Linked DNA regions of Homo sapiens. The protein of the gene in region 1 interacts with the protein of each later gene in a pairwise test. Each region holds a gene or a part of one and is shown in the gene's direction. Other genes may lie near its edges.

What was found.
Region 2: the proteins of MCM8 (region 1) and MCMBP interact in binary tests that used the Homo sapiens proteins (3 or more experiments, as listed by UniProt).

The regions. Positions count from the first base shown.
Region 1 is NC_000020.11:5,981,543-5,985,292, forward strand, and holds part of MCM8 (DNA helicase MCM8), read left to right. Parts: intron 1-1,427; coding exon 1,428-1,623; intron 1,624-3,238; coding exon 3,239-3,458; intron 3,459-3,750. UniProt on the Homo sapiens protein: Component of the MCM8-MCM9 complex, a complex involved in the repair of double-stranded DNA breaks (DBSs) and DNA interstrand cross-links (ICLs) by homologous recombination (HR).
Region 2 is NC_000010.11:119,871,239-119,874,988, reverse strand, and holds the start of MCMBP (mini-chromosome maintenance complex-binding protein), read left to right. Parts: upstream 1-2,145; 5' UTR 2,146-2,404; coding exon 2,405-2,462; intron 2,463-3,750. UniProt on the Homo sapiens protein: Associated component of the MCM complex that acts as a regulator of DNA replication.

The DNA.
Region 1 (3,750 bases):
AAACTGTAGCTGGAAAGGAAAAAATGGGTCAAAATTACATTGGGAAAAGCGTATTGACAAGAATTCATATATACTGTGTCGGAAGAAATAGGTTTGGACAGAGCAGCCGTTATTATACATGAGCAAGGCAAAGAGACAGCATAGCAGCTGTGAAGAAATAACGTAGGAAGAAAGAAAGACATTTAATATGCCCAGTAAAAGACCTCACTGTAGACAAAATTATAATCTAAGGAACAAATGAAAATTTCCCATGAGTGTTTCATGTTTGATAAGAACATTAATGAAATAGCTCAAAACAAAAAGATAAGGCTATGAGAGACAAATTGATGACTAACAATGTTATTAAACTAATATATAAAATTGACACTGCTGAATGAGAAATTATAAAGAGGAAAGGCTTGAGATAATTGCAGTGAATGCAAAAGAACAAAGCTTAATACAATTAGAGGGGAAGTAACAGAGATAGAGAACAAAGGAAATTCAACATAATTGGTTCCATGAAGTAGAAAACCCAAACATGAAACCAGAAATGGATTCAAGGATAGAAGAAAATCTGTTGAAATAAACTAAAGGCACTGTATGTGCCAGGAATGTCATGTCTATTGCACAAGTTATTGGGGACTCTCTAACATTAGTTTACAATATTTGTCTTCCCTGCTCCCCATACCAGTTAGGTTAGCAGCTGGGGATCAAAAAGACTAATCAGCAGTTATTTTCCATATACTCCTCTGTGCTAGTAAGGCTTACTTAGGTATAGAGTAGATACGGAGGGGTTTAACCACAGCAAAGCCCTTCAGATGTGACCCCCAGATACTAACCTAACTGGTATGGGGAGAAAGGAAGACAAGCATTACGAGGTAATGTTAGAGAATCTCCAATAACTTATGCAATAGACATGACATTCCTGGTACATACAGTGCCTTTAGTTAGTGGTGGTGCATTGTATTATGTTTAAAGAGATTAAGTGATTTCCCTATAAGTGCATACAAGTGTATAGTCAATACCTGGTATAGGTTTTGAAATATACTTATTAAACATAATAAACTTACTATATGTGTATTGAGGTATACTTATTAAATTGTGCATGTGTGTTTGTGTGTGTATGTAACATCACACCCATTTGAATTTAACTCCTTAAGCATTTTGAGAATTACTCTTACCTCCTCTTCGTTTTTGTAATCCTCACAACATAGTGCTGTGCGTATGAAAAATGCTAAAGGAAGAACTATTACACAAAACTTAGTTAAATAAGACAAATGTATTAACTTGCTGCAGAACAAACAGTAATTCTCCATTGTATGACATTTTATAATTTTAACTGCTGAAACAAATGGAAATAATTATTGTGAAACAATTTCTATCCTATAAAATTTGGAACTTGACCAAAGAAAAAATGTTTTTTCTGCTTTATTCTACTTCGATTGTAGGTATTTGTGGAATCGATGAATTTGATAAGATGGGGAATCAACATCAAGCCTTGTTGGAAGCCATGGAGCAGCAAAGTATTAGTCTTGCTAAGGCTGGTGTGGTTTGTAGCCTTCCTGCAAGAACTTCCATTATTGCTGCTGCAAATCCAGTTGGAGGACATTACAATAAAGCCAAAACAGTTTCTGAGAATTTAAAGTAAGTCTCTTCAAATATTTATACCTTTAATGTATTGAATCACTTTAATTCAATAAGAAAAAGAAATAGTTCACAGAACTACAGGGGAAAAACATGGATATTTCACAGAAGTTATAAATGTCCAATAAATGCACAAAAATGTGCTTAAACACTGCAGAGTAAAACAATGAAGTACGAATGAGATCCACCAGATTGGCAAACATTTTAAATATTAATCATTTTTGGCAAAGTAGTGTGGAAATGGTTTCTCAGTGGCTGGGCGGGTGGCTTATGCCTGTAATCCCAGCACTTTGGGAGGCTGAGGCAGGTGGATCACCTGAAGTCAGGAGTTTGAGAACAGCCTGGCCAACATGGCAAAACCCCGTCTTTAGTAAAAATACAAAAATTAGCCAGGCATGATGGCAGCCGCCTGTAATCTCAGCTACTTGGGAGGCTGAGGCAGGAGAATTGCTTGAACCTGGGAGGTGGAGGTTGCAGTGAGCCGAGATTGTGCCACCACACTCCAGCCTGGGTGACAGAGTGAGACGCCATGTCAAAAAAAAAAGAAAAAGAAATTGTTTCTCACATACACAATTTATTATTTTGTGGGACCCCTTGGTGTGTTGATCACAATTCTAAATGCACATTCTGTTTGTTATAGCCACTCTACTTTTAGGACTACTGTTCACAGAAATAGTCATACAAGTGCACAACGATAGGTTTATAGCATGGGTATTGCAGCATTATTGCTGCCAAACATTGGAAACACCTTAAAACTATAATAAGACTGTAGTGATTATGAGAACGAAAGTGGCTTTATATGTACTAATGGGGGAACATGTCTGTGCTGTACTATTAAGTGAGAAGAGCACATTAACAAACTTAAATATGTGGTATGATCCTGCTTTTTTCAAAAACAATGTTTATATCTGTATGTATGCTTTCTCTTCTAATTCATTCTGTACAGCTTGGACAAAATGTGTGGAAAAGGAAAAATATATTTAAGTGATACAAAAGTGAGAAAAAGACAAAAGAGTACCTCCTGAAAAATTAGAGCCTTAAGCCTAGTGGGGGTGGAGTTAATTTCTTGTTGTTTAATAATGTATCAATATAGAAACAGTCTTTGATACATAGTGAAATACACAATGTGTACTTGGAGATTTAGGGTATTTACCACCACCACCAAAAAAATCAACCTACTAGTAGTTTTTCTTTAGTAAAATGACAAAGTGCTATATTAGAAAAATCAGAAAGATCTATTGAACAAAAATCCAGCAGACTTGGATTCTGTTTTTTAATGGTATCATGAACAAAATACTGAACTAGCTAACCTCTGATATGTCATGTAGCAGTATTGCCAATTAGTGATAATAGGACATGAAGAATTCAGTGGGTTTGGGGGTGTGAGAAAGAGCCATGTCCTCAACCTACCCAGGGTAGATACATGTAATTCTTGTGCCCATGTTGCAGTGGTTGGATATATCGAATCCAAGAAGCTATTTGCTTATTTCTTTAACCTAAATCTTGGTTTTTCAAGTTCTGCGTGGAACTTGAGTAGTAAATAAGTGAGTAGACAGTTTTCTAGTTTTTCCTTTTGATTCCAATCATTGTTTCTTCTTTCTTTCATCCTTCATAGAATGGGGAGTGCACTACTATCCAGATTTGATTTGGTCTTTATCCTGTTAGATACTCCAAATGAGCATCATGATCACTTACTCTCTGAACATGTGATTGCAATAAGAGCTGGAAAGCAGAGAACCATTAGCAGTGCCACAGTAGCTCGTATGAATAGTCAAGATTCAAATACTTCCGTACTTGAAGTAGTTTCTGAGAAGCCATTATCAGAAAGACTAAAGGTATAAATGTTTCTTCTCCTTATTCAGTTTGGTTCTGTTTGAATGTCAAAGTTCAGTGTGTGGCTTATTGTAGAGCAGTAGGATACAAACTTTTTTTTTACCAGAACTTTTTAATATTTCCATACTAGAGTTTACGTAAACTTCATCTGAAATAATCCAAGTCGGCCTGGCGTGGTGGCTTATGCCGGTAATCCCAGCACTTTGGGAGGCCGAGGCAGGTGGATCATGAGGTCAAGAGATCGAGACCATCCTGGCCAACATGATGAAACCCCATCTCTACTAAAAATACAAA
Region 2 (3,750 bases), on another chromosome or scaffold:
GTGGTTTGACAAGATTTTTTGACTTTATGATGGTGTGAAAGCAACACCCATTCAGTAGAAACCATACTTCAATTACCCACACAGCCATTCTGTTTTTAAATTTCAGTACAGTATTCAATAAATTGCATGAGATATTCAACATTTTATTATAAAACGGGCTTTGTGTTAGATGCTTTTGCCCAACCGTAGGCTAATGTAAGTGTTCTGAGCATGTTTGCAGTAGCCTACTGATGTTTGATAGGTTCCGTGTATTAAACACATTTTCAACTAATGACATTTTATTTTTTTGAGACGGAGTCTCGCTCTGTCACCAGGCCGGAGTGCAGTGGCATGATCTTGGCTCACTGCAACCTCCGCCTCCCGGGTTCAAGTGATTCTCCTGCCTCAGCCTCCAGAGTAGCTGGGACTACAGGCGTGCGCCACCAGGCCCAGCTAATTTTTGTATTTTTAGTAGAGATGGGGATTCACCATGTTGGCCAGGATGGTCTCCATTTCTTGACCTCATGATCCGCCCGCCTTGGCCTCCCAGAGTATTGGGATTACAGGAGTGAGGCTCCACGCTGGGCCTCAACTAATGATATTTTCAATTTACAATGGGTTTATTGGGATGTAACTCCATCCTAAGTAGAGTAAGTAGAGGAGCATCTGTACAAAACAAGCTCCCTACCCTTCCACTATGTACCTAAGAGCAGGACATACATTTTCAAAGGTGTCCCACCTCCTCTTTCTACCAGGGACAAAAGTTAGTCACCAGAGACAACTTTAGACCCTTATCAGCCAGCGATGGCGCTAGAAGAACCTACATAACACACTTTACTCACTACCTGTAACTACCATTAGTTTCTCGTATCTCTGCCTTCCCACTCTGCTGTTTTTGGAAACTTCAAACTGCTTTCGCCATTTCTCCCCAGTTATTGTTCTTTATTGTAAATGCTACGTAATTCCCCCATTCTAAGCCACCTGTTTGAGTTACTCTTCCTTGAGTTTTGCCCATATAAGATGTACATGTTACTAAATTTTTCTTTTGCCAATCCGAGCTTTGTGATAAGGGCCGCAGTGGAGAACCTAGAAAGGTAGAAAGATTTTCCCCCCTTCCTACAGCCCCAAGGAGGGTTTGAGACACGGGTTCCGTTTTTTTCCTTCAGCTCCTCACTTTGTAGATTCCATTCAGGTCATTCCCCTTCCGTCACCATGCCCTTTTTTCATTGAGTAGATATATCTGATGGGCCTGGGGTTTTCTTAGGTACATTTCAGGCCCAGGGGAGACACAGTTTCATTCTTTTTTTCTTTTTTATCGGACAGCCTCCTGAACCAGAAGAGGTTCAGAGCGACTCCCACAGTTTCACTCTTGAACTTGGGTATTTTCCAAATTGCCTCAGCAAAAGGCTGCTGTAGTCGGTCTTCGTAGCTTCCTTCTCCAGGGTATCCTAGCGGCGCGCAGTGCAGGAGCCTCGCACCGCTCCCCGACGGCGGCTGCCAGCTTCCAGACAGACGCCGACCCGGTGTTCGCAACCAGGGCGCAGGCCGGGCCCGGAGCGTTTAGAGCGCCCGCCCCTCGGTAAGGAACCGTCCCTGAGCCACAGGGCCTGACGCGACTGCAGAAGGAGCGTGGGGTCCTCCGAGGTTCCCCTTCTCTAAATGTGCACCTTCCTCAGGGAGACCTTGTGCAGCTGAGGGAAAAGTCACCACTCAGGGTTTCGGGCCGGGGACCCAAATAAAAGTGCTGCCATCAGCAAAAAAAGAAAAAAAAGGCACGAAGAGGAGGTGGGCGGATTCCCAAGGCGGTTTCGCCCACTAATTTTGCCCAGAGATGACTCTGAGGTCTCTGAGCTTAATGCTTTTCAGCTGTTGTGCAGACTCGCTTTGCCCTCTTATAAGCCCACTATGGGAGTTCCCGCTACACGCCGGCCCAGGGGTACAAACGACAACGCGCCGCCCTTGGAGCGCGTCGCCGGGCCCCGCGCTGCGCAGCCTCCAGCGGCGCTGCGTGCCCTTCCTTTTGCCCGTCTCCAAGATGGCGGCGCCGCCGCCGCCCCTCCTCCTCGCCGCGCAGAGCCGCGCTGCGCCGCGCGCTCCCGCCGCCCCTCCCCACGCGAGCTCCACCCAGGTCGCAGGCAGCGCGGTCGGCGGCGGCTATTTCCCGCCATTGTGCGAAGTGAAGGCTAGGGGCCCGTACGCGCCCGCCTGACTGTCGCCAGCAGCTCCTCGGCGGCCCCACCGCAGCCGCCGCTCCCTGAGGCGCGGGAGGCCCGCGCCCCGCGGCTCGCTGTGCGTGGGAGGGCGCGAGCGAACGCGGGCGAGGAGCGGCCGAGCCGCTGAAGAGGAGCTGGGCGCCGGCCGCCCGGCCGCGCTCGGCCCGCGGATCGCCTCCGCCCGGTCTTCGCCGGCCCCGGCCCCTGGCGAGATGCCGTGTGGGGAGGATTGGCTCAGCCACCCGCTGGGAATCGTGCAGGGATTCTTCGGTGAGTGGCGGCGCCGGGGGGCGGGCCGGGCGGGCAGCCGAGTTTGCCGGGCCCCGGGGCAGGGCCCCGCCGCGCGGCCCCCACGCGGTACCATCTCGAGGGCTCGCGTGGCCCGAGACGGGGCCCCGGGGCCTGCACCGGCCCCAGCTGGGACAGCCTCTCCCCCGGTCGCAGCAGGCAGGGGCAGGAGCCGGGCCGCAGGTACCTCCCACCTGCCCGAGTCGCAGCTTGGGAGCCGCCAAGGTGAAGTCGTGGGGCGCGGGCTGTGATTCGCGGGCTGTGATTGACGGCCTCGCTCCCAGCCTGTGGCAGGGCCAGGGCCCCGGCCCCGGGCGCAGCAAACTCGGAGGTCCTCGAACCCTGGGGAGGGCCCGCAGAGCCGCGGGGAGGGAAAACCACTTTGCCTGTGGGAAGCCCACAGGATATTTCAAAACTTCCGGTGCGTCGGGGAGTGCTCGCTTGCACAGAAGTTGGTTCTAACTCCTGTGCTACCCTCATTCTCTCTTTCAGAGATAAGATTTAATGTTCATAGCTTAGTTTTCCTGTTGGGATGACTTTAGAACCCATCTAGTCTGGATCTGCTCCTGTGCCAGAGCCAGCAAGAAATATTGAGCTACTTGAGTTTGTACACAGGGCTGAGAATCCTGCAGGCGAGCTTAGTAAATTTTGGTTGCGATTGCTGTTGCTACTTTACTGCGAAGGGTATACGAAGAAAAGTTTATATTTGTTGTCGTTAACTGGGCATTTTGACAACCGTTCCATTCCCCAGTGTCTTTTTACACGTAATGAGTGGCGGAGTCAGATCCAGCTAGAAATCACTGTAGATGGCAACACCTGACTTGTCTGGAGTTAACTTAGAGTTGTAGAGCGGCCTTAGCTCATTGAAAAAAACATCTTGGGGTACTAGAGAGAAAAGGCAGTGGGAAGCTAAATCATCCTCAGCAGCCAAAATCGACGGCAAACAATGTATGGTATTTCTTATAGGAGGGCCTCTAGTGCTTACTCAGGAAGTCCTTATTAATTTACCTGTAATTCTAATTAGTTTAGTTACCTGGCTTCCCAGGCTGTAACTAATGGCATTATATTAGAAAAAAGCCTGGATAGACGTCCGAACTTAGCCAGTGAACACTGACAGCCTGATGAAGAAATTTAAAACTACCTTCATACTTGAAAAAAAAAAAAATTCACTATATAGCAGTCAAGGGTGCTTTGAGGAAGGGGCATATATTTCTCCACTAAATCCTAGTAATTTATGTTCATAAGAATTCTAGAAATGATAATCGATGGT